6 separate regions of the Homo sapiens genome follow, and regions 1, 2, 3, 4 and 5 are each linked to region 6. Evidence: fine-mapped expression QTL. A gene starts in region 6. Each other region holds a variant in brackets. All regions are shown on one strand. Distances are between the middles of the regions.

Region 1 (5,074 bases), 72 kb after region 6:
TTGAACTCCTGACCTCAGGTGATATATCCGCCTTGGCCTCCCAAAGTGCTGGGGTTACAGGTGTGAGCCACTGTGCCCGGCCAGAATATTCATTTTCTTTTACCGTAATAGAGATTGACCTTTTTATTTCCATATTTGTAAAACTTTTTTTGGATAAAATAATACTGTTAATAATTATTTTGTATATATATTGGCCCTCATGTTTTGGTTTATTTTCATATATTTTAATTTTTAGTATTTTAAATTCCATTGTGGAGAAAATGTCAAGCATTGCTAGAGTACAGTTATCATACCTGTGATATTGTGAAATATATATTTAGTCTTCTTCCCCTTCTGTCATATAACTCCTAAAATCTTTGGAATATCCAAGGTCATATCTTTTTGTATACTAATGATTGATAGCTTCAGGGTGGGACTGGTCACTGGAAAGACAGAGACATGATTAGAGGTTGGAACTTTCAGCCCCACCCTCCAATATCTACGGAAAGGAGAGGGGCTAAAGGTCAAGTTGATCACTCATGGCCAATGGTTTAATCAATCATTTCTATGTAATGAAGCCTCCCTAAAACCTTGAAAGGACAGGGTTCAGAGAGCTTCTGGATAGCTGAACACATGGAGGTTCCTGGAGGTTGGGGCACCCAAGGAGAGCATGGCAGCTCCATGTCCCTTCTCCCATACCTCACCCTATGCATGTCTTCTTCTATATCCTTTGAATATCCTTCATAATAAACTGGTAAATGTGTTTTCTTGAGTTCTGTGAGCCACTTCTAGCAAATTAAACCCAAAGAAGGGGTCATGGGAACCCCTACTTAAAGCTGGTGGTCGTAGATCAGAAGATCCAGAGGCCCAACTGGTGTCTGAAGGGTGGTGTGGTTTTGAGGACTGGGCCCTCAACTTCCTGATCTGACGCTCTGCAGGTAGATAGTGTCAGAATTGAATTGGACGGCACCCAGCTATTTTCCACTGCAGAACTGCTTGCTTGCTTGCTTGCTTGCTGGTAGGGAGAAATCCCCTCATATCTGGGGGTAACAGCACTTCTGTCTTCTGTTGCTGTTGAGTGAGGGAATAAGAAAAATCACTTTGAGTTTGTGGGGTGTTTTCCTCACACAAACATATCATACAGGGCTAAATTTCTGGGTGTTTTTTTGTTTGTTTTTTTTTTTGAGACCAAGTCTCGCTCTGTCGCCCAGACTGGAGTGCCATGGGTCGATCTCTGCTCACTGCAACCTCCGCCTCTCAGGTTCCAGCAATTCTCCCGCCTCAGCCTCCCAAGTAGCTGGGACTACAGGCGCCCACCACCACGCCTGGCTAATTTTTTATATTTTTAGTAGAGACGGGGTTTCACCATGTTGGCAAGGCTGGTCTCGAACCCCTGACATCAAGTGATCCACTCACCTCGGCCTCCCAAAGTGCTGGGATTACAGGCATGAGCCACCACGCCCGGCAGAGCTAAATTTCTTACTATCAAATGTCAAATATCCAGTCTGGGTTCAGTTTTCCCCAGTTGTCTCCTAAGTACTTTTACAGTTTATTTGTTAAAATCTGGATCCAAATAAAGTCTATACACTGTAGTTGGTCAATAGGTCTCTTACTCTTCAGATTTCAGTGCTCCATCTGTTTCCCTCTTGCATATTTTTATTTGTTGAAGAGCTCAAGTCATTTGTCCTGCAAAGGTTCCCACAGTCCTGTGGGGTCTTCAGACATTGTCTTCTATCCCCTATATTGCCTTAACCTAACTCTGGAAAGGATGGATTGAATTCCAGTTCTATTTGTTTGGCAAGAATATCACATAGGTGATTTTGTCTACTTTGATCAGGAAGTATAATGTGCCAGGCAGCCATTGGTGATTGCTGCCCAGATTTTTTACTTCATTTCACCAGGGTTTCAGAAAGATGATACTGCAGTTTTTACATTCTTTCCTCATTAATTAGCTAGAATATATCTATAAAGAGAAACTTACACTCATCAAACACTGTGGTTACCCTTGGGAAAGGCAGGATGAATATTGGATCTCTTTATTTGCCAGTTTCCAAATAATGCCCTACCAAGCATCTTCCAAAGTTGAAAGCAAGACTTATAGTTGTTTTTCAATAATAATCAGGAATTCATGGGTTAAAACATTTAATGTGTTTCTGTGTATTACAAGTATTATCCTTTTACTCAAATTATCCCCTTTTTAACAGCTGGCTTCCTCTTCTCATTGAATAAAGCTAAGACGTAGGCCGGGCGCGGTGGCTCACACCTGTAATCCCAGCACTTTGGGAGGCCAAGGCAGGCAGATCACCTGAGGCCAGGAGTTCAAGACCATCTGGCCAACATGGTGAAACCCCGTCTCTACTAAAAATACAAAAATTAGCTGGGCGTGGTGGCGCACACCTATAGTCTCAGCTGCTCTGGAGGCTGCGGCAGAATCGCTTGAACCTGGGAGGCAGAGGTTACAGTGAGCCAAGATCACTGTACTCCAGCCTGCACTCCACTCCTGTACTCCACTGCACTCCAGCCTGAGCGACAGAGCGAGACTCTGTCTTTTTAAAAAAAAAAAAAAAAAAAAGTTAAGACATACTTTTTCTAAACTTAATCCTAGTTTTAACCCCCCTTGTTTCTTTCTCTTTTTCTGGAGATAGTTTCAGTCTGTCACCCAGGCTGGAGTGCAGTGGCACCATCACCACTTGCTGTAGCCTCGACCTCCCCAGGCTCAGGTGATCCTCCCACTTCAGCCTCCCAAGTAGCTGGGACTACAGGCACACACCACCATGCCCAGCTTGTGTGTGTGTGTGTGTGTGTGTGTGTGTGTGTGTGTGTGTGTGTGTGGACAGGGTCTTGCTCTTTGATCTGGTCTGGAACTCCTGGGCTCAAGCGATTCACCTGCCTTGCCCAGGCTGGTCTGGAACTCCTGGGCTCAAGTGAGTAACCCACCTTGGCCTCCCAAAGTGCTGGGATTACAGGCATGAGCCAAACCACCTGCACCCCCTTTTTTTTTTTTTTTTTTT[A/TA]AGGAAGGAAGGAAAACTTAGTTTCAGAGCAATTCGGTTAGACACTGGAATAATAGGAGACCTAGTCAATAACCCACATCTGTTTTTGTTCACTCCAGATTCAATAAAATAAAATAAAAACTTCTTACTAAATGTAGGCATTAACATTTTAGTCTCCTCGAGACATGCTCCAAGTGAATGTTTTCGGAAGTTCCATTCAGAACCCTTGTCTCATTCTCTACCTTTGATTTGTTACAGACTCTTCATCAGTCTTTATCCCTGGCATCTTCCCCCAAAGGAACCATTGAGAACATTTTGGACAATGACCCAAGGGACCTTATAGGAGACTTCTCCAAGGTAATTGCAAGCAGAGCTGCTCTGGCAAGTGTAGGAGGGAGTGTGGGTATTTAGAATCCCACTCAGCCTGTCTCCCTCCCCAGGGTGGTTCCTGGCATACCTCCAAAAGGACACAGTTAAAAGAATGTTAAAGGTAGGGAAGCAAACTTAGTTTCTCATGATCAGGTATATGTTGGTTTCTGAGACTGTAGATATCACTATAGCTGATGGGCAGTTTTAGGTAGGGAGCTGTCCACCAACCACCTTGATTGTAACCCAAAGACTAGGCTCTCTGGGAACTGTGTTATTATAAAAATAGTAATTAGCAGGATAGTGTACAGCAGAAATAAATCTGTAGCCACACTACAAGTCTGCATGTTGAAAGGTTATCTTAGAAGGTCTGGGATTGAGACTGAATTTCTCCGTTCAGAGAAGCTTGGCCATTGAGGGAAAAGACCCTCCAGGAAGTCTAGAGGAAGATCTTCTAATAGCCTGATATACTACATGAAGGCTTGGCTGCAGTAAAATACAAGGCTAGGACAGGGAATGTGTCAATAGCAGCTTCTTTAATCACATTTTGACTTGAAGGTTACCAGATCAATGTTTTATTCATTAATTTAGTTAACATTTATTGAAGCACTTATGTGTTAGGCAGAGATTCCAAAATGAGATACAGTTCCTTCCCTCAAAGAATTTAGCATGTGGTTGGAGAGGTGAGACGTGAACTACATGTACCACATGGTAGACTGAAATAAATTTTAGTGAGGTGTAAACATAAACAGCATGCCGTGAGAAGTAAAAGGGTTTATCTTGGCTAGGGGGTTGGGGAACGTCTGGGGTTGGGCCGTTGATATTTCAGCCCAAATGGGTTTTGAAGGAACGGAGAATGAAGAGAACAAGCAAAGATCCAGCTGTATCCTCAGTTTTGGAACCTTCTCTTGTTTGGCAGGGAGAGATGTGGTCTTACTATGTTGCTCAGGCTGTAGTGCAGTGGCTATTCGCACATGCTATCATAGTACACTGTAGCCTCAAACTTATGGCCTCAAGTGCTCCCCCTGCCTCAGCCTCCCAAGTAGCTGGGACTACAGGCATGCACCACCACACTCAGTGGAATTTTCAACTTGAATTGAGGCCTGGTTATATTTGTCTTAATGGGCCTATGCATGGGGATAGATGAACTCTTGGCTCAGCCAGTCACCCTAATGAGTAATTGCTAATGTGTGCATCTTCCTCCTCAAGGCTGGGCTAGGTCTCTTTTTTTCCTATCCCCAGTGCCTGGCACCATGCTGGACATAGCAGGTGCTCAGTAAATGAGTGAAATCTGTATGTTTAAGTGCTATTCGCAGTCTAACTACTGACGTGTGGATTCTTGACAAAAGCAGGAGGAAAATGAGATTACCTGAGGTTTCTTTATTTAAATCTGCCTTACTAGCTAGGTAACCTTGGATAAGGTGCTCAAAATGGGGATAATATACCTCATTGGTTTGTGTGAAAATTAAATGTCAGGATGTTAATGAAGTAACTAGAAGAGTAACTAGTGTGTACTAACTAATGTTTGTTTGCTTGTTTGTTTGTTTGTTTTTTGAGAGGGAGTCTTGCTCTGTCACCCAGGCTGGAGTGCAGTGGTGCAATCTCAGCTCACTGCAACCTCCGCCTCCTGGATTCAAGCGATTTTCCCACTCCAGCCTTCCGAGTAGCTGGGACTATAGGTGCATGCTAACGCCCGGCTAATTTTTGTATTTTTAAAAGAGTTGGGGTTTCACCATGTT
Region 2 (5,074 bases), 21 kb before region 6:
CAAGCAATTCTTTTGCCTCAGCCTCCCAAGTAGCTGGGACTACAGGCGTGTGCCACCATGCCCAGCTAATTTTTGTATTTTTAGTAGTGACGGGGTTTCACCATGTTGCCCAGGCTGGTCTCGAACTCCTGAGCTCAGGCAATCCACCCGCCTCAGCCTCCCAAAGAGCAAGGATTACAGGTGTGAGCCACCGCGCCCGGCCTTTTTATTTTTTTTTAGACATAGTCTTGCTCTGTCACCCAGGCTGGAGTGCAGTGGTGCGATCTTGCCTCATTGCAACTTCCGCCTCCCAAGTTCAAGTGATTCTCCTGCCTCAGACTCCTGAGTAGCTGGGATTACAGGCACGTGCCACCTCGCCCAGCTAACTTTTGTATTTTTAGTAGGGACAGGGTTTCACCATGTTGGTCATGCCGGTCTCGAAATCCTGACCTCATGATCTGCCTGCCTCGGCCTCCCAGTGTGCTGGGATTACAAGTGTGAGCCACCATGCCCGGCCTCTTCCTTCTTTATTCTACATTTCTAATAAACAAGACCCTTCAACTTAAAAAAAAGAAAGTCCATAATGTTCAGAGTAAAAGCCAAGCTGCTTAGAGGGCCCACTGGGTTCCACCTACTGCTTCTTTGACTCAACCTATTCTCCAGCCTTCATTTGCTCCATCTGAGCCACACTGTCCTCCCCTCCTGATGATGTACACTGGCTGGTTTCTATGTCTACAGAACCCTTCTCCCATACATATCACTGGTATATTCTAAGAATGCAGAACTAGACCCAGTGTTTAATAGTCAATACATACTTTTGAGTAAATGAGTGATAGGAGCCAAGTTAATTAAAAAAGGACTAGAGGGTTAGGCAGAAGATGTTCTCTAATACTGTCAGAACAAAAGCCTCCTTTTTATAACCTATATTTTGTAACATCTCACTTACTGTCCTGAAACAAAATTCATATTTAATTAAATGTACTCATAATGTTTTGTGTTTTTTTTCTCTCCAAGATGGAGTCTTGCTCTGTTGCCCAGGTTGGAGTGCAGTGGCGCAATTTCAGCTCACTGCAACCTCCGCCTCCGGGGTTCAAGCGATTCTCCTCCCTCAGCCTCCTGCGTAGCTGGGATTACAGGTGCACATCACCATGCCGGCCTGTTTTTTTGTTTTTGTTTTTGTTTTGTATTTTTAGTAGAGGCAAAGTTACACCATGTTGGCCAGGCTTGTCTTGAACTCCTGACCTCATGATCTGCCCGCCTTGGCCTCCCAAAGTGCTGGGATTACAGGCATGAGCCACCGCACCCAGCTGCAGAATGTTTTAATAATGTAATGCCCTATCCGAAACATAAAAAAGAAAGGAGCCGGGCGTGGCGGCTCACGCCGGTAATCCCAACACTTTGGGAGGCGGAGGCAGGCGGATCATCTGAGGTCAGTAGTTTGAGACCAGCCTGACCAACATGGTGAAATCCTGTCTCCACTAAAAATAAAAAAATTTGCTGGGCGTGGTGGCACGTGCCTGTAATCCCAGCTACTCAGGAGGCTGAGGCAGGAGAATCACTTGAACCAGGGAGGCAGAGGTTGCAGTGAGCTGAGATTGCACCATTGCACTCCAGCCTGGGCAACAAGAGCAAAACTCCGTCTCAAAAAAAAAAAGAAAAAAAGAAAGTAATTTACAATAAAAATATTCATTTCAATATGTAATCTCTTGACAAGGCTACATTATGAGACATACCAGAGCAATCAAGTGCTTACAGGAAGATCATTGTGGACATGATAGCTACAAATGCAGACACACATGGATATGCCTTATTGATGACTACATGTGTTCTAGTGGTGACAGACCTAAGTGTGCTACGCAAGCGGTTACTCAAACACCACAACCAGCACTGCCATGAGTGATGTATTTTTTTTTCATATTGGTGAACACCTCTTGGTAAAGCTCAAAACTATTTTCTCTTGATTTACAACCTACCATGCAAAAATTACGATATTATCTAAAATAGATTTATATTCTAGAGTCAGAACATTACAAACAAATCCGTGGGCTACAGGGAAGAAAAAAAGAAGGAGAGAGAGAAGGAATTGATATAAATTAAGAGAAGTTTTTAGAAGATGGAATGTGTGGATCTCATCTGAATCCTGATTCAAATTTGCAAAAAAACTTTTTTGAGATGATCAGGTAAATTTGAACATGGACTAGGTGTTGGATGATACTGAAGCACTACTGATAACTTTGTGAGTTCTGATCATGATACTGTGGTTATATAAGAAAATGTGAAGCCGGGCACAGTGGCTCATACCTGTAATCCCAGCACTTTGGGAGGCTGAGGCGGGCAGATCACCTGAGGTCAGGAGTTCGAGACCAGACTGGCTAACATGGTGAAACCCCGTTTCTACTAAAAATACAAAAAATTAGCCGGCTGTGGTGATGCGCGCCTGTAATCCCAGCTACTCGGGAGGCTGAGGCAGGAGAATCACTTGAACCCAGAAGGTAAAGGTTGCAGTGAGCCAAGATCGCATCACTGCACTCCAGCTTGGGCAATGAGAATGAAACTCCATCTCAAAAAAAATAAATAAAATAAAATGTCC[T/C]TATTTATTGGAGTTGCACTGTGATATAAAGGAGTGGTATGTCATGATATTTGAGATTTGCTTTAAATAATTCAGCAATAAGAGAAAAAGTGATGTAGAGAGAAAGGGAAAGATGGATCAAGGATGAAAACAGTTTAACACCTGAAATGGATACAGTGAGATCCAAAGTTTCAGGGTCAAGATTAATTTGAATCAGATTATTTTAAGGCAATTTTAACATATTCTTCAGAATCAACAAAATGTATGAGCATAAAGATAAAGAGTAACAAGACCAGATGAAACAAGACCAAATCAGATTGGCCAATTGAAAGCTAACTTAAATGGATGAACCTACACTGAAACAGAAATAGGCAACTAGGATTGAAATGAGGCCAATTCAAATTAGATTAAAGCAGTGCAAAATAGGTCTAAGCAGATGCAAAGAGAACAAATCAGAACTATGTAATTCATAGCTATGCCAGATGAAGACAAACCTTGAGAAAGATGCTGAGAGAAATGTGAGGAACTTTGAAAATCTGACTCTCATCAAGAACTCAGGAATATCCAGAATAATTTTGTATTTGCTAACCTAGTAATCAGTTTTAGTTTTTAAATAAGTGAATAAAAACATGATGTATGATATCCAGTAATCTATAAAACATCAAACTGACAGATTTATACCTTAAACGTTAAACATTTCCAACTTCTAGGTCATAGAAGGCATCTCTTACTATTCTCCTCCTTGTTCTCTGTACTCCAACCACCTTGGCCTCCTTGCTTTTCCTCCAAAGGACTAGATATGCTCCTGCCTCCAGGGCCTTGGCACTGCTTTCCCCTTGTCTGGAGCAGTTTCCCACCTGACCCACATATCCAACCTCCTCACCTCCTTCAAGCCTTTGCTCAAATGTACTTCCTCATAGAGGCCTACCTTGATCATGCAATTTAAAAGTTCAGCCAGTTGCCTCCACACCCGGCACTTCAGATCTCCCTTAATCTACTCTACTTATATTTATATATATCTTATACATTTTTTTTTAGCTATGTAGCACTTATTATCCTTTGACATATATAATTTACCTATATATGCTGCTTATTGTATATTGTCAGTCTACCTATACTAGAATATAAGCTCCACGAGAGAAGAAATGCTTTATTATTCTATTCACTGATATGTTCTAAGAGATTAAAACATTGGCTGGCACACTGAATATGGTCAGTAAATACTTGAATGGAAAAATGAAGGAAGAGAACATGTCCTTACCCAATGAGACCAGATTCCTGAGATTTTCCAGCATCACTTCTTTGTATAGGTTCCTCTGCTCAAGGCTCAGTCTCTTCCACTCTGCCTCAGTGAAAAGCACAGCCACATCCTCGAAAGTCACTGGTCCCTAAATCAACCGATAAATTCATATTCATCAAGTCACCATTAAGATTCACAGTGAAAATGGAACTGGTGGTCTTGGAGCATCTAGCTACATAAGAAATTGATCTAGGCCGGGCACGGTGGCTCACACCTGCAATCCTAGCACTTTGGGAGGCCGAGGTGGGAGGTTATCTTGAGGTCAGGAGTTCGAGACCAGACTGGCCAATATGGTGAAACGCTGTCTCCACTAAAAATACAAAAATTAGCTGGGCGTGGTAGCACACGCCTGTAGTCCCAGCTACTTGGGAGGCTGAGGCAGGAGAATCACTTGAACCTGAGAGGCAGAGGTGGCAGTAAACCAAGATCACTCCATTGCACTCCAGCGTGGGTGACAGAGTGAGACTCCGCCTCAAAAAGAAAAAAATGGATCTGCTACTTGGGAGGCTGACATGAGAGGATTGCTTGAGCCCAAGAGTTCAAGACTAGCCTGAGCAACACAGTGAGACCCTGTCTCTATGAAAAATAAACAAAAATTAGCCAAGTATGGTGGTGTGCACCTGTAGTTCCAGCTACCCAGGAGGCTGAGGTAGGAGGATTGCCTGATCCCAGGAGGTCAGGGCTACAGTGAGCTGAGATCGCACCATTGCACTCCAGCCTGGGTGACCAGAGCGAGACCCTGTCTCAAAAAAACATACACCATATGCTTTTTCATCTTCAAGTCTCTTCTCTTCTAAATGAGTATTCAGTGGTGTTCTATCTTTAGTTACACTTGAAAGGTGGCATTGCCCTCAGATACCAAGGGAGTCACCAATCAACTTCTACTGAATTCAAGCATTATTTGCTCAGTGACCAACTGCTTCAGCCTATGGGTATTCCATGACACTCCTAACTTGCCCTAGATTTTTTTTTTTTTTTTTTTGATACGGAGTCTCACTCTGTCACCCAGGCCGAACTGCAGTGGCGTGATCTTGGCTCACTGCAGCCCCTGCCTACCGGGTTCAAGCAATTCTCCTGCCTCAGCCTCCCAAGTAGCTGGGACCACAGGTGCATACCACCACACCTGGCTAATTTTTTTTGTATTTTGTTTTTAGTAGCGATGGGATTTCACCATGTTGGCCAGGCTAGTCTCCAATTCCCGACCTCAAGTGATCTGCCGGCCTCGG
Region 3 (5,074 bases), 36 kb after region 6:
CTGGTGAAGCAGGGGGCTCTCTCCATTGGGCAAGGAGCCCCTGCCACGGTGGTCACCTATATGGGCAAGGGCAGCCCCACTGAAATGAGTTATCTCCCAGCAAACTTGCCTACAGCAACAGTATTGTGTAGGGCCTCTGGGACCCATCCTGTCACCAAAGGAAAAGCCCCAACACTAATTTCTGGGGTTGTCGTGGTAACAATACCATGCAGGGAGCCTTGGGCCAGGTGCCACCTGGATCTGAGTTCAAACTGGGACCCCTGAGAGGGGTGTGGCTGGGGAAATGGAGCCAATGGAAATTATGTTGTGTGCCTCCTCCCAGCCGCACCGTGGCCATAGTGTCTATGGAGTCTGGCCACTTGAGTCCAGGGATGTGACCTGTGTGTGTGGTCCTCTAAGATACAAAGGGCTCCTGTGTGTCCACCTCCTTTGAGCTCACAGCACTCCTGGAAGGACAGGGCAGGGGTAACCATCAGCCCCATTTGGCAAGGGAAGAAACTGAGGTCCAGAGCCAGGTGGGAGAGTTGCCTTGAGAGGCAGGTCTTGGCTAAGTCATGGCTGGTGGCAGGACTCAGACCTCTGGCTCCAGTTCACAGTTTCTCTTGGTCTGATCTGGGGCCTCCTATTTCTCTCAACTGTGCTCCCTGTCCCCTTCTGTCTTGAGCCCACCAAACACCACCCTGACCAGCCCTGTGTCTCTCCTATAGTCTAGTGCGGCAAGAGGTGCTGGGGATTCAGCTTTTCAATCTGCTGAACTCTGGGCATTGACAGGCTGGACTAGGGGTGCCCTTCTGCCCTGTGCTACCTCCAACTCTCTTCCTTCCCCTCCAGGCTGTACCCCTGCTCCTCTGGCTGCTTAAGACCAGGAACAAAGACTCCAAGGAGACTCTGGGCAAGTATGGAGGGAAATACGTTCCTCATAGAATGGCCTCCAGGAGCCCCTTCCTGTGTTGTTGGGAGTGTGGAGCCACTATTGCCAGGACTGGCTACATAATTTGCAGCACCCAATGCAAAATGAAAATGTGGGGCCCTTTGTTCAAAAATCATAAAGAATTTCAAGACCTCAGAAACAGAGCATTGAACTAAGTACAGGGCCCTTCTGAGTGCAGGGGCCCTGTATGACCGCACAGGTCACATGGCCATAGCTCTGCCACCAGCACCAGAAAACAGTCATAGCAGGAAGGAGTTCAAGAAGTGGCTTCAGGAATTCCTCAAATCACAGAGATTTAAATCATCTGGGAAACATAACAACATGCACTTAAGACTTTATTTATTGGTTTGGTAAAGTCTTCTTTAAGAAATTAAGGGCTGGGCGCAGTGGCTCACGCCTTCAATCCCAGCACTTTGGGAGGCCGAGGTGGGCAGATCACAAGGTCAGGAGATCGAGACCATCCTAGCTAAGACGATGAAACCCCATCTCTACTAAAAAATAAAAAAACTTAGCCAGGCATGGTGGCAGGAGCCTGTAGTCCCAGCTACTTGGGAGGCTGAGGCAGGAGAATGGTGTGAACCCGGGAGGTGGAGCTTGCAGTGAGCCGAGATCGCGCCACTGCACTTCAGCCTGGGCGACACAGCGAGACTCTGTCTCAAAAAAAAAAAAAAAAGAAATTAAGAAAGAGCTCTAAACCCATACATTCAAGCGTGTGACCAACAACACTGACTATTGCAACTTTCCATTGTCCAGAAGGGGTAACTGAGGCCCTCAGAGAACAAGGAGAAAAGGGCTTGGCAAAGCCCCAGGTGGGGCGTGGCCATGCTGGGGTTCAACCCCATGCCAGTGCTCCTTCTGCCTGCTGCAGAATTAGGAGCACCCCCAGCTACCCGAACCTAGCGGGCAACTGGGAACTTGGAGAGCTGGCCTGTGCCCTCCTCTCCAGCCCAGTGCCCTTGGAACCCATGCAGGCATAGAATCAGTGAGCTGAGATCGTGTCACGCCTGGGCAACAGGGAGAGACTCCATCTCAAAACAACAACAACAACAAAACAAAACAAAAAAACACAA[C/T]TGACAGGCAGGGCTTAGTGGCTCATGCCTGTAATCCCAGCACTTTGGGAGGCCAAGTTGGGTGGACCATGAGGTCAGGAGATCGAGACCATCCGGCCAACATGGTGAAACCCCATCTCTACTAAAAATACAAAAATTAGTTGGGCGTGGTGGTAGGTACCTGTAGTCCCAGCTACTCGGGAGGCTGAGGCAGGAGAATCACTGGAACCTGTGGGGAGGTTGCAGTGAGCCAAGATCACACCACTGCACTCCAGCCAGGGGACAGAGCGAGACTCCGTCTCAAAAAAAAAAGAAATTTGGTTACCTCTGTGGCATATAATGATTTTATGTAACAATTATAATTATTAATAACAAACACTAAGCCATATCAGAATTATAGGAGTATTCCATAATTTGGGAACACATACCAATAACATATTTATACAAATACAGCCCAAAGAAAACCAAACGCCATTTTATATTTGACAATGCTTTTGTATGACTTTTTTTTTTGAGACGGAGTTTCGCTCTTGTTGCCCAGGCTGGAGTGCAATGGTATGATCTCAGCTCACCACAACCTCCACCTCCTGGGTTCAAGCAATTCTCCTGCCTCAGCCTCCTGAGTAGCTGGGATTAGAGGCATGCGGCACCACGCCCAGCTCATTTTTGTATTTTTAGTAGAGATGGGGTTTCTCCATGTTGGCCAGGCTGGTCTCAAACGTCCAACCTTAGGTGATCTGCCTGCTTCGGCCTCCCAAAGTGTTGGGATTACAGGTGTGAGCCACTGCGCCCGGCCTTGTATGACTTTTAAACCAAATAAGCCAAATGTTACTGTTGCATTAATGCATTATTGATGTCAAACCCAATTTTTCTTTCTTTTTTTTTTTTGAGACGGAGTCTTGCTCTGTCACCAGGCTGGAGTGCAGTGGCGCAATCTCGGCTCACTGCAACCTCTGCCTCCCGGGTTCAAGCGATTCTCCTGCCTCACCCTCCCAAGTAGCTGGGATTATAGGTGCCTGCCACCATGCCTGGCTAATTTTTGTATTTTTAGTAGAAATGGGGTTTCACCATATTGGCCACGCTGGTCTTGAACTCCTGACCTCGTGATCTGCCCGCCTTGGCCTCCCAAAGTGCTGGAATTACAGACCATGAGCCACCACACCCAGCAAACCCAATTCTTAATAAAACCTTATAGACAAATATATTTTAATCTTAGTCAGTTTGACCATAAGGTAAGATTTTCATAAACCTTTTATAGCCCTTTACAAATTTTTGTTAAAGAGCAGATCATCATGGCCAGGACCAGTGGCTCACACTTGTAATCCCAGCACTTTGGGAGGCTGAGTCGGGCAGATCACCTGAGGTCGGGAGTTCAAGACCAGCCTGACCAACAGCAAAGAGTGCAAGGCAGATCAATCCAAAGAGAATAGCAGTTAACATCCTGTAATGCTAAACCTGTTCTTAGCTGAAAGGGAGTTTACTGAGAGTAGCCTCCAACTCCCTAAATCTTAAAGGGACTCTAACCCTTCTAAGTTGGGCCTCTAACCCAAGGTCAGTCAAGCATTCTTGCCTTTTATTTTTATTTATTTATTTATTTTTGAGACGGAGTCTCACTTTGTTGCCCAGGCTGGAGTACAGTGGCATGATCTCGGCTCCCTGCAACCTCCACCTCCTGGGTTCAAGTGATTCTCTTGCCTCAGGCTCTTGAGTAGCTGAGATTACAGCCTTGCACCACCACACCCAGTTACTTGTATTTTTAGTAGAGATGGGGTTTTGCCATGTTGGTCAGGCTGGTCTTGAACTCCTGACCTCAGGTGATCCACCCACCTCAGCCTCCCAAAGTACTGGGATTATAGCCATAAGCCACCGCACCTGGCCTCCTGCCTTTTATTAAGAAAGGGGCCTCTAACCCACTCTGACTTAGGAGAGACTCTAAGTCCCCTAAATTGGGCCTCTAACCCAATCCCATTCTTTACCCGGATATAGGCATCCCACTTACCCAAAGTCCACCAATTAGTCCTGCAGTCCATTTCCTTTGGGGCAGGTGGTTTCTTCAATATTGTCCTTTCAGGATTCATCAGAAAGATGTTACCAGACCCCACCACTTACACAGTTAGCCTTTGGGTTGGGGATTTCCACACTATAGTCCCTTCATAGTCGCCAGAAAGATGCTACAGGAAAGGGGTCCCGATTCAGATCCCAAAAGAGGGTTCTTGGATATCGCACAAGAAAGAATTCAGGACAAGTCCACAGAGCAAAGCAAAGGCAAGTTCATTAGGAAAGTAAAGGAGTAAAAGAATGGCTACTCCGTTGACAGAGCAGTCCTGAGGGTTGCTGGTTGCCCATTGTTATGGTTATTTCTTGATGATATACTAAGTGAGGGGTGGATTATTTATGCCTCCCCTTTTTAGACCATATAGGGTAACTTCCTGACAATGCCATGGCATTTGTAAACTGTCATGGAGCTGGTGGGAGTGTAGCAGTGAAAATGACCAGAGGTCACTCTCGTGGCCATCTTGGTTTTGGTGGAATTTAGCCGGCTTCTTTACTGCAACCCGTTTTATCAACAAGGTTTTTTTTTTGTTTTTTTTGTTTTTTTTTTTTTTTTTTTTTTTTTTTTTTTTTTTGAGACGGAGTCTGGCTCTGTCGCCCAGGCTGGAGTGCAGTGGTGCGATCTCGGCTCACTGCAAGCTCCGTCTCCCGAGTTCACACCATTCTCCTGCCTCAGCCTCCCGAGTAGCTGGGACTACAGGCACCCGCCACTGCGCCCGGCTAATTTTTTGTACATTTAGTAGAGACGCGGTTTCACCATGTTAGCCAGGATGGTCTCGATCTCCTGACCTCGTGATCCACCCGCCTCGGCCTCCCAAAGTGCTGGGATTACAGGCGTGAGCCACCGCGCCCGGCCTTTTGTTTTTTTTTTTTTGAGACGGAGTTTCATGCTTGTTGCCCAGGCTTGAGTGCAATGGCGCGATCTCGGTTCACTGCAACCTCTGCCTCCCGGGTTCAAGCGATTCTCCTGCGTCAGCCTCCCAAGTAGCTGGGATTACAGGCATGCGCCACCACGCCCGGCTAATTTTTTTTTTTTTTTTTT
Region 4 (5,074 bases), 71 kb before region 6:
CAACACCAGTCTTCTCCCTCCAGATGCTGCCAGGCTGCTGGTTTTCACTATGATTGTGGGTGGTTGTTTTTCATTACTACCATGGAACTGGGAATGCTGCAGATGGGTCCAGAGCAAGATAAAATGCCATGAAACTCACTATTCTTACTGAGAAGCAGCAATTTTTCTTCAATAGATGTTCCTTGGATTGCTGCATGGTTTGATTTTTTTTTTTTTAATTCCCAGAATTCTGGAAAACTTGATTCTGACCATTTTTGCCAGTGTTCTTGTTGCTTTCGTGGAGGAAATTTTAAAGATTCTTACTTCTCCATTTTCACTGTCCAAGCAAAAGGGCTCACTTTTGAATGAAGACACTGAGACCTGAGGGGAGCAACTTATCAAAGTTCTTATAACTATAAATGGGTGCAAATGCATATTTTTAAAGATTGAGGTAAAATTCATATGACATAAAATGAACCATTTTAAAGTGAACAAATTGGTAGCATTTAGTACATTTACAATGTTATAAAACTGCCACCTTTATTACTTTCAAAACATTTTTGTCACTCCAGAATAAAACCTCATGTCCATTAAGCAGTTAACTTCCCATTCCCTCCTCCCCACAGTTCCTGGCAACTAGCAATAGACTTTCTGTTTTTACAGATTTACTATTCTGTATATTTCACATAACTGGAATTATACAACCTATGATCTTTTGTGTCTGGCTTCTTTCACTTACATAATCATTTTGAGGTTCATCCACAGTGTGGCATATATCTTCATTTCTTTTTGTATTACTGAATAGTTTTCCATTATGTGTATATACCACAATTTTTTTATTTATTCATTGAAGGAAATTTGGGTTGTTTCCATGTCTAACTATTGTGAAGAGTGCTCTTATAGACATTTGTGTACAAGTATTTATTTGAGTACCTGTTTTCAGCCTTCTGGTTATATACCTAGGGGTGGAATTTGCTGAGTTATATGGTAATTCTGTGTTTAACTTTTTGAGGAACCATCAAACTTTTCTATAGGGGCTGAACCATTTTACATTCTTCCAGAAATATGAGAGTTCCAATTTCTTCACATCCTTGCTAGTACTTTTTAAAAATATTATTATATCCATCCTTGTGGGTGTGAAAATGGTATCTCATCAAGTTTTCATTTACATTTCTCTAATGACTAATGAGGTTGGACATCTTCTTATGTACTTTTTGGCTATCCATATACTTTTTTGGAGAAATATCTACTCAAGTCCTTTGCCCATTTTTAAAAATTGTGTTGTCTTTATGTTTTAGTTGTAAGAATTCTTTATATATTTTGAATACTAAATACTATGATTTTCAAATATTTCTCCCCCGATTCTATAGGTTGCCTTTTACTTTCATGATAATGTCCTTTGATGCACAAAGTTTTTAATTTTGATGACATCAATTTATCTATTTTTTCTTTTGTTGTTCTTACGTTTGCTATTACACCCAAAAAACCACTGTAAAATCCAAAGGCATAAAGATTTACCTCTAATTTTTCTTCTAAGAGTTTAGTAGTTTTAGCCCATTGATCTTTTTTTTTTTTTGAGACAGAGTCTGACTCTGTTCCCAGGCTGGAGTGCAGTGGCATGATTTCAGCTCACTGCAACCTCTGCCTCCCAGGTTCAAGCAATTCTCCTGCCTCAGCCTCCGGAGTAGCTGGGACTACAGGTGTGCACCACCACGCCCAGCTAATTTTTTGTATTTTTAGTGGAGACGGGGTTTCACCATGCTGGCCAGGCTGGTCTCGAACTTCTGACCTTGTGATCCCCCTACCTCGGCCTCCCAAAGTGCTGGGATTACAGGCGTGAGCCACCACGCCCGGCCCCATTGATCCATTTTTGAATTAAATTTTATATATGGTGTGAGATAGAGGTCTAACTTTTTTCTTTTTTCTTTTTGAGACAGGGTCTCACTTTGTCACCCAAGCTGGAGTGAAGTGGCACGATCTTGGTTCACTGCAACCTCCACCTCCTGGGTTCAAGCAATTCTCCTGCCTCAGCATCCCCAGTGGCTGGGATTACAGGTGCCCACCACCAAGCCTGGGTAATTTTTGTATTTTTAATAGAGATTGGGTTTCACCATGTTGGCCAGGCTGGTCTCAAATTCTTGACCTCAGGTCATCTGCCTGACTCAGCCTCCCAAAGTGCTGGGATTATAGGTATCAGCCACCATGCCCACCCTGTCTAATGTTATTCTTTTGCATGTGGTTATCCAGTTGTCCCAGCTTTATTTGTTGAAGAAACTATCCTCTTCCCCCATTGAATGGCCTTGGTACCCTTGTTGAAAATCAATTGGCCATAGATATATGAGTTTATTTTTGGATCCTTGATTCTTTTCTTTTGTTCTGTATTTATATCCTAATACCAGTACCAGTACCACTGATTATTATACTTTTTTTTTTTTTTTGGAGACAGGGTCTTACTGCATCTCCCAGGTTGGAGAGCAGTGGTGTGGTCATAGCTCACTGCAGTCTTGAACTCCCAGGCCCACACAATCCTCCTGCCTCAGCCTCCCAAGTAGCTGACACTGCAAGATTATTGTAGTGTTATAGTAAGTTTTTGAAATTGGACATTTGGAGTTTTCCAATTTTGTTTCTTTTTCAAGATGATTTTGGCAACTCAGGGCCCTTTGCAATTCTATATGAATTTCAAGATTGGCTTTTCTATTTCCACAAAATATAAAGGCCACTGGAATTTTGATAAGGATTTCATTGAATCTGTAGATTGCTTTGGGAAGTA[T/C]TGTCATCTTAAATTAATTCTTCCAGTCAGTGAGCATGGGATGTCATTCATTTATTTAGGCCTTCTTTATTTATTTTCAGCAGTTTCAATTTTGTAGTTTTGAGTGTACAAGTCTTTCACCTCCAGGATTCTTACTAAGTATTTTCTTTTTTGGATGCTGTTGTAAACTGAATTGTTTTCTTAATTTTATTTTGAAATTGTTCATTGCTGATTTATAGTTATAGAAACACAACTGATTTTTGTTTGTTAATCTTGTACTCTGCAACTTGCTGAATTTATTAGCTTTAGTCATTTTTATATTAATTATTTGGGATTTTCTACATATAGAATCATATCATCTTTGAATAGAGATCATTTTACTTCTTCCTTTCCAATTTGGATGCCTTTTATTTCTTTTTCTTGCCTAATTGCTCGCCTAGAATTTCCAGTCCAATGTTGAATCTCAGTGGTGAAAGCAGGTATTCATGTCTTGTTCCTGATCTTATACAGGTCTTTCAGTCTTTCACCATTGAGTACGATATTAGCTATGGGTTTTTCATAAGTGTTCTTTATCGTGTTGAAGAAGTTCTCTTCTATTCCTAGTTTTCTGGGTGTTTTATTATGAAATGGTGTTGGATTTTGTTGAATATTATGTGTGTATGTTTTGAATCAATTAGTATTATCATGCAGTGTTTTTCTGTCATTCTATTAATGTGATATTATTAAATTGGCTGATTTTTTTTTTGAAACGCTCTGAATTCTTGGGATAAAGGCCATTTTGTCATGGTGTATAATCCTTTTAATATGTGGTTGTATTCAATTTGTTGGTATTTTTCTGAGAATCTTTGCATCTGTATTCACAAGGGATATTGGTCTATAGTTTTCCTTTATGTGATGTCTTTGTCTGTCTTTGATAACATGGTAATGCTGTCCTCATAGAATGAAGTAGCAAGTGTTCCCTCCTCTTGTATTGTTTGGAAGAGTTTAAGAAAGATTGGTACTAAATCTTTTAAAAATATTTGGTAGGCCAGGTGCAGTGGCTCATGCCTGTAATCCCTGCACTTTGGGAGGCCGAAGCGGGTGGATCACCTGAGGTCAGGAGTTCAAGACCAGCCTGGCCTACATGATGAAACCCAGTCTCTACTAAAAATACAAAAAATTAGCTGGGCCTGGTGGCGCATGCCTGTAATCCCAGCTACTTGGAAGGCTGAGGCAGGAGAATTGCTTGAACCCAGGAGGCAGAGGTTGCAGTGAGCTGAGATCGTGCCACTGCACTCCAGCCTGGGCAACAAGAGCAAAACTCTGTCTCAAAAAAAAAAAAAAAAAATTTTTTTTTTGGTAGAATTCAGTACTAAAGCCATCTGGTGTTTGTCGGGACATTTTTTATTACTGATTCAGTATCTTTACTTGTCATAGGTCTGTTGAGACTTTTTATTTCTTATTAAGTTTTGATAATTTGTGTGTTTCTAGGAATTTGTTCATTTCATCCAGAATATCTAATCTATTGACATACAATTGTTCATAGTATTCTCTTTTAATCCTTTGTTTCTGTAAGGTCAGTAGCGATGTTTCAGCTTTCATTAAATGCATATTTTAACTTTAAGACACATTCTTTTTCTAATCCTCTGTATTTCTACTTGAATTTTCAAAGGCTATTTTGAATTTCTGTATTTTATTGTAGACTGAGTATGTTTTCTATACTCAATGTCTTTGACAAATAAAAATTCATATAGTAGAATTTTTAAATATTTGCCAAGAATTCATTATTAGCAGAATGTTTATTTCCCAAACTTAGCCAAAGATTATCAAGTAAAATTTAGTCAGAATTTATGATATACCATACAGCAAAAATAATTTTAAAATATAATTTCTTTCAGATTTGAAGGGCTTAACATAACTAAACTGTATGATGGACAATGTGTAAGTAAAGACACTTTTATTTTTTATTTTTAGAAGTAAACTAGATAAGTTAAGAGCTCACTGTTTTAGAGGGTTTTAAATGTTTTGTTATGAACATTTTCAAACATACATAAAAGTAGAGCCAATAATAGATCCCATAAGCCTATCATGTGTATTCAATAAATTGTAATGTTTTGCCACATTTCCTCCCTCTATTCTTTTATTTCTCTGTTTTCTTTGATGAAGTATATTAAAACAGGTCTCAGACATCATGTTATTCACTCCTACATACTTCAGAGTTCCTCTCTAATAAGTTTGGACATTTCCTTACATACTCAGAAGGTCTTATTACAACTAATTATTTCATTGTCATCTTCTAATACATACTTCATATTCAAATCTCCCCAACCAAAAATAACACCTTCTGGAGGAAGAAACATAATTTGG
Region 5 (5,074 bases), 380 kb before region 6:
TGTCCTTATGTGTCCCATGCATGCTCCCCATCTGACCTTGCGTGTTCTCGCGTGTCTGTGTGCGGCCAGTCCTGCCTTCACTCTCTCATGGGTGGCCCTGGCAGCATGTCTGGCTCCCCAGCAGGTGAGCTCAGGAGATAAGATGGAAGATGCAACAGCCAATGGTCAAGAAGACTCCAAGGCCCCAGATGGGTCCACACTGAAGGCCCTGGGCCTGCCTCAGCCAGACTTCCACAGCCTCATCCTGGACCTGGGTGCCCTCTCCTTTGTGGACACTGTGTGCCTCAAGAGCCTGAAGAATGTAAGGACGGGGGCAGGCCAAGGCCCCTCGAGCTTCCACACTGACCCTGTAATTTGCCCTGAGAGCACTCCCAGCCTCTGACTCCCCAAACCCTCAAAGCTCCCCTTCTAAACTCCCTCCCCAAGCCTGCCCGAGCCCCCCTCTGAGTCCCTGAGCCTCCCTCTGAGGCTGGCCCCCTTTTCCGCTACAGATTTTCCATGACTTCCGGGAGATTGAGGTGGAGGTGTACATGGCGGCCTGCCACAGTGAGTAGGGTGGGAACAGCAGGAGGGACCTGGGAAGAGGGTAGGATACTTTTGGCCAAGGGGTTTTCCAAGTAGCACAAGGAAAAAGTCTTTCTCTGGAACTGGAGGTCAGAGGTGTCCTGGGAGACAGGAGTCCAGGGTTACAAGTGATGTGGATTCAGCTGTAGCCTCAGGGGTGGAGGTCAGGGGTGATGAGGTCAGGGCATTCTGTTGGCTCCCGGGAGTTGAGTTCCTAGAGGTTCTGAGAGTCAGGGGAGGCCTACTTCTTGCCCACAGGCCCTGTGGTCAGCCAGCTTGAGGCTGGGCACTTCTTCGATGCATCCATCACCAAGAAGCATCTCTTTGCCTCTGTCCATGATGCTGTCACCTTTGCCCTCCAACACCCGAGGCCTGTCCCCGACAGCCCTGTTTCGGTGAGCCTACCTCTGGCCTGCCAAGCTCTTTTTTGTTAATCTATTGCTTGTCCCCACCCTGGCCCCAGCTCCAGGGAGTCTTTCCTGGTGGCCATGGCTCTGTCCCCAGTGGGCCCAGTGCTTTCTCCGCTGTCTTTGGATAAAGCTGTTCTAGGGGCGGGGGTTGGTCTGTGTCCTTTGGAAACTGACTAGAGCCTCCCCTCCTCTGCCTGCTCAGGTCACCAGACTCTGAACATGCTACATCCTGCCCAAGACTGCACCTCTGGAGGTGCAGGGCACCCTTGAGAAGCCCCTCACCCCTAGGCCGCCTCCAGGTGCTACCCAGGAGTCCCCTCCATGTACACACACACAACTCAGGGAAGGAGGTCCTGGGACTCCAAGTTCAGCGCTCCAGGTCTGGGACAGGGCCTGCATGCAGTCAGGCTGGCAGTGGCGCGGTACAGGGAGGGAACTGGTGCATATTTTAGCCTCAGGAATAAAGATTTGTCTGCTCAACTCCAGTCTCTGCTGTGGCTTGGTGGGGCCCTGGTGGTGGGTGGTCCACAGCTGTGGCTGCTGACCCTTCCTGTGCCCTGAAGGTGAGACGGGGCAGAAGGTGTAGGAAGGACTCGGGAGGTTAGGGTACAGAGCAGGGGAGCTGTGGAGGCATCCCCTGTTAAGGTCTCTCCCCAGCCATGCATAGCCCTCACTCGCTGTCTCCTCAGATGTGAAACAGTTGGAACCAGAGCTGCTTCTCAGGAATAATTTGCTCTCAGGAATACCCGAGAAGGTACAGGGCAGCGTGGGTGCCAATGGGCAGTCCCTGGAGGATACAGAGTGAACACCTAGGAGCAGCTGTTCCCCCACACTGCTGCTCTATGCTTAAGAATAAGCATGACCGGGCCGGGCACGGTGGTTCACACCTGTAATCCCAGCACTTTGGGAAGCAGAGGCAGGTGGATCACTTGACATCAGGAGTTCAAGAACATCCTGGCCAACATGGTGAAATCCCACCTCTACTAAAAATACAAAAGTTAGT[C/T]GGGCGTGGTGATACATGCCTGTAATCCCAGCTACTCGGGAAGCTGAGGCATGAGAATCGCTTGAACTTGGGAGGCAGAGGTTGCAATGAGCCCAGATCATGCCCCGCATGGGTGACAGATCACCTGGGCATGGTAGAACACTGTCAGCCAAGGAGTGTGTGTTGATTTCTGCCATTAAATGCCGACATCTGGGCATGTGACCCAGCAGGCAGTGGGGCGTTGGGTCAGCTGACAGTGATGGCAGGGGAGGGACCGGGTCTTAGGATCTGTCTGGGCCTCAGTGTGCTGTTCATCGGTAGAGCGTGAGTGGCTACAATTCTTGCTTCAGGGGTTGCTCAGTGAATATTAAATGAGTAGATGCCGGGCCTATAATCCCAGCACTTTGGGAGGCCCGAGGCAGGTGAAACCCCATCTCTACTAAAAATACAAAAATGAGCTGGGCATGGTGCTGGACGCCTGTAATCCCAGCTACTGGGAAGGCTGAGGTGGGAGGATCAATTGAACCCAAGAGGCGGAGGTTGCAGTGAGCTGAAATCATGCTGGAGGGAGCTGCACTCCAGCTCGTGTGACAGAGCAAGACCCTGTCTCAAAAATAAATGAGGAAATGCCAGGAAATGCGAAAACAATGCTGGGCTCAGGTCCTCTCCTCCAAACATGCGAGCACTGCTGTTCATCAGGTGCTGAGCAGGTGCCAGGCTCTGTGCAGGGGTCTGGGCACCATCCTGAGCATGGACAGAGGCCACCCTGCCCTTCAAATCGCAGAGGTACCCTTGCCTGGCTCTGTTTTATCATGGTCTGTATTGGTGCCTGGCACCATCACCCCCCACCCCCCAACTCATGGCCTAGAAGTTCAGCCCCAGGAAATAAGAGCTTTTATTTACTCTGTCACACCACGTCCTAGCATCAGAAATGGTGCCTGGCAGCTGCTCAGTAAATATTGTTTGAATGAAGCTTATATGTTGGAGAGGGCAGTTTAGACCTCAAACAGGAAATTGCAGGTAGTTAGAAATGCTTTGAAGAAAATAAAGCAGGGTCACGTGATAGAAGAGGTCATATGTTACCCAAGATGCTCATGGGAGGGGGACTCAGCAGGTGACCCTGGAACTGAAATTCCAGCCATAAGAAAGAAGGTGACTTTCTAGGCCTGGGGAGCTGTGGTGCTGGCAGTGGGGGTATTGAGGCAGGCCTGTGGGAGGCAGGGGCAGCATGAGCTGAGGTGAGAGGGTGGGGGGACCTCACAGTCCAGGGGGAGACTTTGGGCTTTGTTCTGACAGCGGGGGAGCTGCCTGTGGATTTTGATCCCACATCTTTGAGCACTCACCCAACTGCGATGTGGACTGTGGGGCTGCGGTTGGGTGTGGGGGACCTGCGAGTTTGGTCAGCCTAGAGAGGTGATGCCCCTGGTGGAAAGCAAAAGGTTTTAGGGGCCGTGTGGATTTTTTTTTTTTTTCTTTTTAAATCGGCTCTTGCTCTGTTCCCCGGGCTGGAGTGCAGTGCTGTGATCACCACTCACTACAGCATTGACCTCCTGGGCTCAAGCGATCTTCCTGCCTCAGCCTCCTAAGTAGCTGGGACTACAGGTACATGCCACCACACCCAGCTAGTTCCCCCACCTCCCCCCACCCAAGACGGAGTCTCGCTCTGTCGCCCAGGCTGGAGTGCAATGGTACGATCTTGGCTCACTGCAACCTCCACCTCCTGGGTCCAAGTGATTCTCCCACCTCAGCCTCCTGAATAGCTGGGATTACAGGCACCCACCATCATGTCCAGCTAATTTTTGTATTTTTGTAGAGACGAAGTTTCACCATATTGGCCAGGCTGGTTTTGAACTCCTGACCTCAAGTGATCCTCCTGCCTTGGCCTCCCAAAGTGTTGGGATTACAGGGGTGAGCCACCGCACCCAGCCCCAGCTAGTTTTTGTTTGTTTGTATTTTGAGATGGAGTCTCGCTCTGTCGCCCAGGCCAGAGTGCAGTGACATGATCTCAACTCACTGCAAACTCTGCCTCCCGGGTTTAAGTGATTCTCCTGCCTCAGCTTCCCAAGTAGCTGGGACTACAGGGGTGTGCCAGCACGCCCAGCTAATTTTTTTTTTTTTTTGTATTTTTAGTAGAGACGGGGTTTCACCATGTTAGCCAGGATGGTCTCAATTTCCTGATGTCGTGATCCACCCACCTCAGCTTCCTGAAGTGCTGGGATTACAAGTGTGAGCCACCACAGCCGGCCTTTTTCTTTTTTTTGAGATGGAGTTTTGCTGTTGTTGCCCAGGCTGGAATGCAATGGCGCGATCTCGGCTCACCACAACCTCCACCTTCCAGGTTCAAGTGATTCCCCTGCCTCGGCCTGCTGAGTAGCTGGGATTACAGGCATGAACCACCACGCCTGGCTATTTTAGTAGAGGCAGGTCTCCATGTTGGTCAGGCTGGTCTCGAGCCCCCGACCTCGGGTGATCCATCTGCCTTGGCCTCCCAAAGTGCTGGGATTACAGGCCTGAGCCATGGTGCCCAGCCTAGTTAAAAAAAAAAAAAAAGTTTGTAAGGTCGGGTGCGGTGGCTCACGCCTGTAATCCCAGCACTTTGGGAGGCCGAGGCAGGTGGATCACGAGGTCAGAAGATTGAGACCATCCTGGCTAACACGGTGAAACCCCGTCTCTACTAAAAATACAAAAAATTAGCCGGGCGAGGTGGCGGGCGCCTGTAGTCCCAGCTACTCAGGAGGCTGAGGCAGGAGAATGGCGTGAACCCGGGAGGCAGAGCTTGCGGTGAGCGGAGATCGTGCCACTGCACTCCAGCCTGGGCGACAGAGCAAGACTCTGTCTCAAAAAAAAAAAAAGAATTTCTGTTAGTTACTGGTTTCTTTAACTGTTTGGGACTTAGTTTCTTTTTTTATCTTTTTTGAGAAAAAATCTCACTCTGTTGCCCAGGCTGGAGTGCAGTGGTGCAATCACAGCTCATTGCAGTCTTGACCTCCCAGGCTTAGGTGATCCTCCCACTTCAGCCTCCTGGGTAGCTGGGACAACAGGCATGTGCCACTATACCCAGCTAATTATTTGTATTTTTTATGGAGATGGGGTTTTGCCGTGATGCCCAGGCTGGTCT
Region 6 (5,074 bases):
CCCGCCTCAGCCTCCCAAAGTGCTGTGATTACAAACGTGAGTCACCGCGCCCGGTCCATTGTCTTTACTTTCTTTAGCTTTGCTATCCAATTGAACTGGTCTTGGCACAGTAGGCAGAGACAAAGCCCACCACCCTCAAAGAGTGGATGGAAGGAGGCACAAGGGCTCCCACACAGGACAAACAGCTACATGCTGAACAATGGCTTGGCAAACTACACACAAGCCAAATCCAGCCTGCCACCTGTTGTTATACCACCCAAAGGCTAAGAATAGTCTTTACTTCAGAAAAAAAAAATTTTAACACAAAGATGAAGTCTCACTATGTTGCCCAGGCTGGTCTCAAACTTCTGGGCTCAAGTGATCCTAGCCTCAGCCTTCCAAAGTGCTGGGATTACAGGCGTGAGCCACCATGCTGGGCCAGTTTTTACATTTTTAATTGGCTGAAAAAAAAATCAGAAACAGAATATTTCATAATAATGAAAATTATATATGAAATTCAAATTTCCTTTTTTTTTTTTAGAGTCTCATTCTGTTACCCAAGCTGGAGTGCAGTCATGCGATCTCGGCTCACTGAAACCTCTGCCTCCAAGGTTCAAGCAATTCTTGCGCCTCAGCCTCAGAGTAGCTGGGATTACAGGTGTACGGCACCACACCCAGCTTATTTTATTTTATTTTATTTTTAAAGTAGAGATGGGGTGTTGCCATGTTGACCAGGCTGGTCTTGAACTCCTGGGCTCAAGAGATCCTCCTGCCTTGGCCTCCCAAAGTGCTGGGATTACAGGCGTGAGCCACTGCACTCAGCCAAAATTCAAATTTCAATGTCTATAAAGAAAGTTTTATTGGAACACGGCAATGCTCATTCGTTTACCTATGGTCTTTGGCTGCTTTCACACAACAGCAGACCACTAGTCGTAACAAAGACCGTGTGGCCTACAAAGCCTGAAACATTTACCACCTGGCCCTTAAAAGAAAACGTTTGCAAGACCAGGTGCAGTGGCTCACGCCTATAATCCTAGCACTTTGGGAGACCGAGGCGGGAGGATCCCTTGAGCCCAGGAGTTGGAGACCAGCCTGGGCAACATAGGGAGACCCTGTTTCTAAAAAAACCAAACAGAAAAAAATTTGCCCAGCCCTGTTCTAGACTGTTCCTGTTGTTACATCCAAAGTCATTTGGGGCCGGGTGTGGTAGCTCCCACCTGTAATCCCAACACTTTGGGAGGCCGAGGCAGGTGGATCATCTGGGGTCAGGAGTTCAAGACCGGCCTGGCCAACATGATGAAACCCCGCCTCTACTAAAAATACAAAAAAATAGCCGGGCGTGGTGGCGTGTCCCTGTAATTCCAGCCGCTTGGTAGGCTGAGGCAGGAGAATCGCTGGAACCTGGGAGAAAGAGGTTGCAGTGAGCAGAGATCGCCCACTGCACTCCAGCCTGGGCTACAGAGCAAGACTCTGTCTCCAAAAAAAAAGTCTTTTGGGCCGGGTGGGGTGGCTAACACCTGTAATCCCAACATTGTGGGAGGCCAAGGTGGGTGGATTGCTTGAGGCCAGGAGTTCGAGACCAGCCTGGCAAATATGGCGAAATCCCCTCTCTACTAAAAATACAACAGCCGGGGTGGTGAGGCGCCGCCTGTAATCCCAGCTACTCCGGAAGCTGAGGCACGAGAATCACTTGAGCCTGGGAAAGCGGAGGCTGCAGTGAGCCTAGATCCCGCCACTGCACTCCGGACCGACTCAAAAAATATAAAAATATAATATACTCCGGGCGCGGTGGCTCACGCCTGTAATCCCAGCACTTTGGGAGGCCGAGGTGGGCGGATCACGAGGTCTGGAGTTCAAAACCAGCCTGGCCAACATGGTGAAATCCCCGTCTCTACTAAAAATACAAAAATTAGCCAGGCGTGGTGGAGGGCGCCTGTAATCCCAGCTGCTCGGCAGGCTGAGGCAGAGAACTGCTTGAACCCGGGAGACGGAGATTGCAGTGAACGGAGATCGCGCCACTGCACTCCAGCCTGGGCGACAGAGCGAGACTCCGTCTCAAAATAAATATGATATAATATAATAATACAAAATGCTGTTCTTCAGTTGCACTCCACACATCTCAAATGCTCAGCAGCCATTTATGGCCAATGACTGCCGGAGTGCACAAGTGCAGGATGCCCGGTGAAGAGTCGTGGAGTGAGCACCGTGGAGACTGTACGGGACACCTAGGGAGGAACCTGGCCCCCCAGGGGAGTAAGAGCCGCTGTAGGGGTAGTCAGCGCCTCACACAGCTCGCACCCCACGCGCATCCCTGGTGGATACGGCCGACGCCTGCGCGGCGCCTGCGGCTGGAGCACCGAATGGGGGAGGCGATCTCGCGGCCCCGACTCACCTTCCGCAGTCCAGCCCAGTAGCTGCTCCCGCGGGGCCCACATCTGCGCGCGCACGCACGCACGAAGCAAACGAGGTAGCAGCACCGTGTGTGAAACGGATTAGAATGCGCACCGCGGGCCACTGGCGGCGCCAGAAGAAAGAAGCAGGACTGGGTGAAGTGCGTCACCGCGCGGCGCGCAGCCTGCCGGGAAGCGTAGTTCTCGGGGCGAAATGCGGCTTGTGCAGGGCGAGAGAAAATGCTGAGGCGCACTTTGACCTTCTAGGTCCCCCTCGGCCGCAATATTTGGGGTTGTGCTTACCACAGGTACCCATAAGCAAAATATAGTGTTGTTTTCCATGGTTGTAAACATTATATAAATACACTTACAATGCCTGCTACTAGCTCTTTTGCGCAGTTCTATAATGACACGTGTTGACCTGTTCATTGTGTGTTCACTGCTGTGTGGTATCTAATGTAGAAATACACCAGGACTCCAATTGGACAGACTCATGCGCATCCATGGAGAGCTTCTCAAGGACAGTGGTTCGCAAACTTGTTGTTGTTAAAATCCTTTTACACTCTTAAAAATTACTGAGGACCCCAAAGAGCTTTTGAAACCGCCTTTGCAAAATTATACCTAAGGAAATTATGATGTTATAGGAGTTATTAAGAAATTATTTTAAGCAGATAGAGAAGGAAAGGGGTCCTTGGGAAGTTTTTGTTTCTTTTAAAGCAGCTCCAGAAAGGTTTCTTGTCTAGCAGGAAAGCCTGGGCTCCTAGAGCAGGATGGCAAGCTTTGATATGGAAATACAGGCCATTAGAAACTGGACGCACCCAAACATGGCGATTCCCGCCGTCCTTTTCTTTGCCCTGACATGTGCCTGGCAACATGGCCACCCCCCACATATTCCCACGTGTGTAGAACTTCATGGAGCCCTACATTTGCATATTAAAAAGCTAGGGTGGGAGGGCCAGGTTTTTGGCTGCCACATAAATGACACATCTGATCAAACTAATCCCCTGAGCCCTATGGAAACCAGACACCGCCTCCTCCAGCATCCTCAGATAAGCAGCCACTTTTCCGCACACGGCGCTTTCTCTTTGTTGGAATCCCCGCTCCCTCTGTCTCTGTATGGGGGAGCTGTTTTCGTCTTCCTTCCTTCTTTCTTGCCTATTAAACTTTTCGCTCCTTAAAACCACTCCACGTGTGTCTGTGTTATTAAGCCTATCAGAGACCAAGGACCCTGGTGTTCCTCCAGTCATCAGAGCCTTATCAATGACAGTAAAAGATATCAGATCTAACCCACCTCATCTTCCTTTCAACCTCTAAACTGTCTTTGTCCACTTCTGGGCATAGGCCAAAGTAGCCTTGGGAAGGAATTCAGTTTATAGCTTAAATAATAGCCCTTCCCAAGGGCTAAACTGTTCTTGTAAAATGAATGAAAGGCCACCAGCCACCAAATTAGGATGAGAAGGGCTGGAATTCTAAATATTACCAGCCATTATTCCAGAGGCCCTAAGACGCACAACTTCCCCAATTACTCTTTTGAAGCACAACTTCCCCAATTACTCTTTTTTTTTTTTTAGGGAAAAGAACACGGAGTCTCACTCTGTCTACCATGCTGGAGTGCAGTGGTGCCATCTCGGCTCACTGCAACCTCCCTCTCCTGGGTTCAAGCGATTCTCCTGCCTCAACCTCCTGAGTAGCCGGGATTACAAGCACGCACCACCATACCCCGCTAATATTTTTGGATTCTTTTTTTTTTTGGTTGGTTTTTTTTTTTTTTTTTTTTTTTTTTTTGAGACGGAGTCTCGCTCTGTCGCCCAGGCCGGACTGCGGACTGCAGTGGCGCAATCTCGGCTCACTGCAAGCTCCGCTTCCCGGGTTCACGCCATTCTCCTGCCTCAGCCTCCCCAGTAGCTGGGACTACAGGCGCCCGCCACCGCGCCCGGCTAATTTTTTGTATTTTTAGTAGAGACGGGGTTTCACCTTGTTAGCCAGGATGGTCTCGATCTCCTGACCTCATGATCCACCCGCCTCGGCCTCCCAAAGTGCTGGGATTACAGGCGTGAGCCACCGCGCCCGGCCAAGGTTGGTTTTTTTTTTTTTTTTTTTTTGAGCCCAGGCTGGAGTGCAATGGTGCGATCTCGGCTCACTGCAACCTCCTCCTCCCGAGTTCAAGCAATTATCCTGCCTCGGCCTCCGGAGTAACTGGAATTACAGGCATGCGCCACCACGCCCGGCTAATTTTGTATTTTTAGTAAGGACGGGGTTTCTCCATGTTGGTCAGGCTGGTCTCAAACTCCTGACCTAGGTGAGCCGCCCACCTTGGCCTCCCAAAGTGGTAGGATTCCAGGCGTGAGCCACCACGCCCAGCCCTCAATTACTCTTAAAGATAACATCACTATTGTGAACCTAAGATTGGCCTTTTGAGATGTCTTTTCAGATTTTTGCATTTCTGACAACTGAACGGCCCCAGCTGGACCTGCCAACCAGTTTTGTGGCCACCACCTAGGAACTGACTCAGCCTAAGAGAACAGCTTCAACTCCTTATGATTTCATCCCGAGCCAACCAATCAGCACCCTGATTCACTGGCCCCCTTCCCACCAAATTATCCTTAAAAATTTTGATCTCTGAGTTTTTGAGGAAACTGATTTGAGTAATAATAAAACTCTGGTCTTCCGCACAGCCGGCTCTGCATGAATTACTCTTTTTTTTT

Which allele goes with the higher level. Alleles are on the strand shown, and positions count from the first base shown. SD is a standard deviation of normalised expression in the study named. Not every link is listed here.
In carriers of allele TA in region 1, the expression in fetal neocortex of the gene that starts at base 2,482 in region 6 tends to be higher than with A alone (moderate effect, 0.52 SD a copy in Walker 2019).

What was found. PIP is the estimated chance that this variant, and not a neighbour inherited with it, causes the effect. A credible set is the group of variants that fine-mapping cannot tell apart.
Region 1: its variant is the best candidate, but not a certain one, in a credible set for the expression of ZNF589 in fetal neocortex (Walker 2019, PIP 0.82).
Region 2: its variant is the best candidate, but not a certain one, in a credible set for the expression of ZNF589 in tibial nerve (GTEx, PIP 0.82).
Region 3: its variant is the best candidate, but not a certain one, in a credible set for the expression of ZNF589 in whole blood (INTERVAL, PIP 0.85).
Region 4: its variant is the best candidate, but not a certain one, in a credible set for the expression of ZNF589 in whole blood (INTERVAL, PIP 0.57).
Region 5: its variant is the best candidate, but not a certain one, in a credible set for the expression of ZNF589 in blood mononuclear cells (TOPMed, PIP 0.87).

What each region holds. Positions count from the first base shown.
Region 1 is chr3:48,166,098-48,171,171 of GRCh38, reverse strand. It overlaps CDC25A (cell division cycle 25A), which reads left to right. Exons shown (of 15, transcript NM_001789.3): 10 at 3,228-3,326. Among named protein-coding and RNA genes, the nearest start is that of CDC25A, 20 kb to the left of the region's middle. The variant A/TA (reference allele first, on the strand shown) is at 2,991.
Region 2 is chr3:48,259,675-48,264,748 of GRCh38, reverse strand. It overlaps ZNF589 (zinc finger protein 589), which reads right to left. Exons shown (of 4, transcript NM_016089.3): 3 at 3,810-3,936. Among named protein-coding and RNA genes, the nearest start is that of ZNF589, 21 kb to the right of the region's middle. The variant T/C (reference allele first, on the strand shown) is at 2,570.
Region 3 is chr3:48,202,117-48,207,190 of GRCh38, reverse strand. No RefSeq gene overlaps it. Among named protein-coding and RNA genes, the nearest start is that of MIR4443, 8.1 kb to the right of the region's middle. The variant C/T (reference allele first, on the strand shown) is at 2,002.
Region 4 is chr3:48,309,478-48,314,551 of GRCh38, reverse strand. It overlaps SPINK8 (serine peptidase inhibitor Kazal type 8 (putative)), which reads left to right. Exons shown (of 8, transcript NM_001080525.3): 7 at 4,606-4,648. Among named protein-coding and RNA genes, the nearest start is that of MIR2115, 4.4 kb to the left of the region's middle. The variant T/C (reference allele first, on the strand shown) is at 2,750.
Region 5 is chr3:48,622,103-48,627,176 of GRCh38, reverse strand. It overlaps SLC26A6 (solute carrier family 26 member 6), which reads left to right. Exons shown (of 21, transcript NM_022911.3): 18 at 122-301; 19 at 492-546; 20 at 823-959; 21 at 1,177-1,454. The coding sequence ends at 1,191. Among named protein-coding and RNA genes, the nearest start is that of TMEM89, 2.9 kb to the right of the region's middle. The variant C/T (reference allele first, on the strand shown) is at 1,978.
Region 6 is chr3:48,238,512-48,243,585 of GRCh38, reverse strand. ZNF589 (zinc finger protein 589) reads right to left here and starts at 2,482. Exons shown (of 4, transcript NM_016089.3): 1 at 2,372-2,482. The coding sequence starts at 2,414. RefSeq lists enhancers at 2,313-2,607, 1,798-2,715, 3,033-3,327.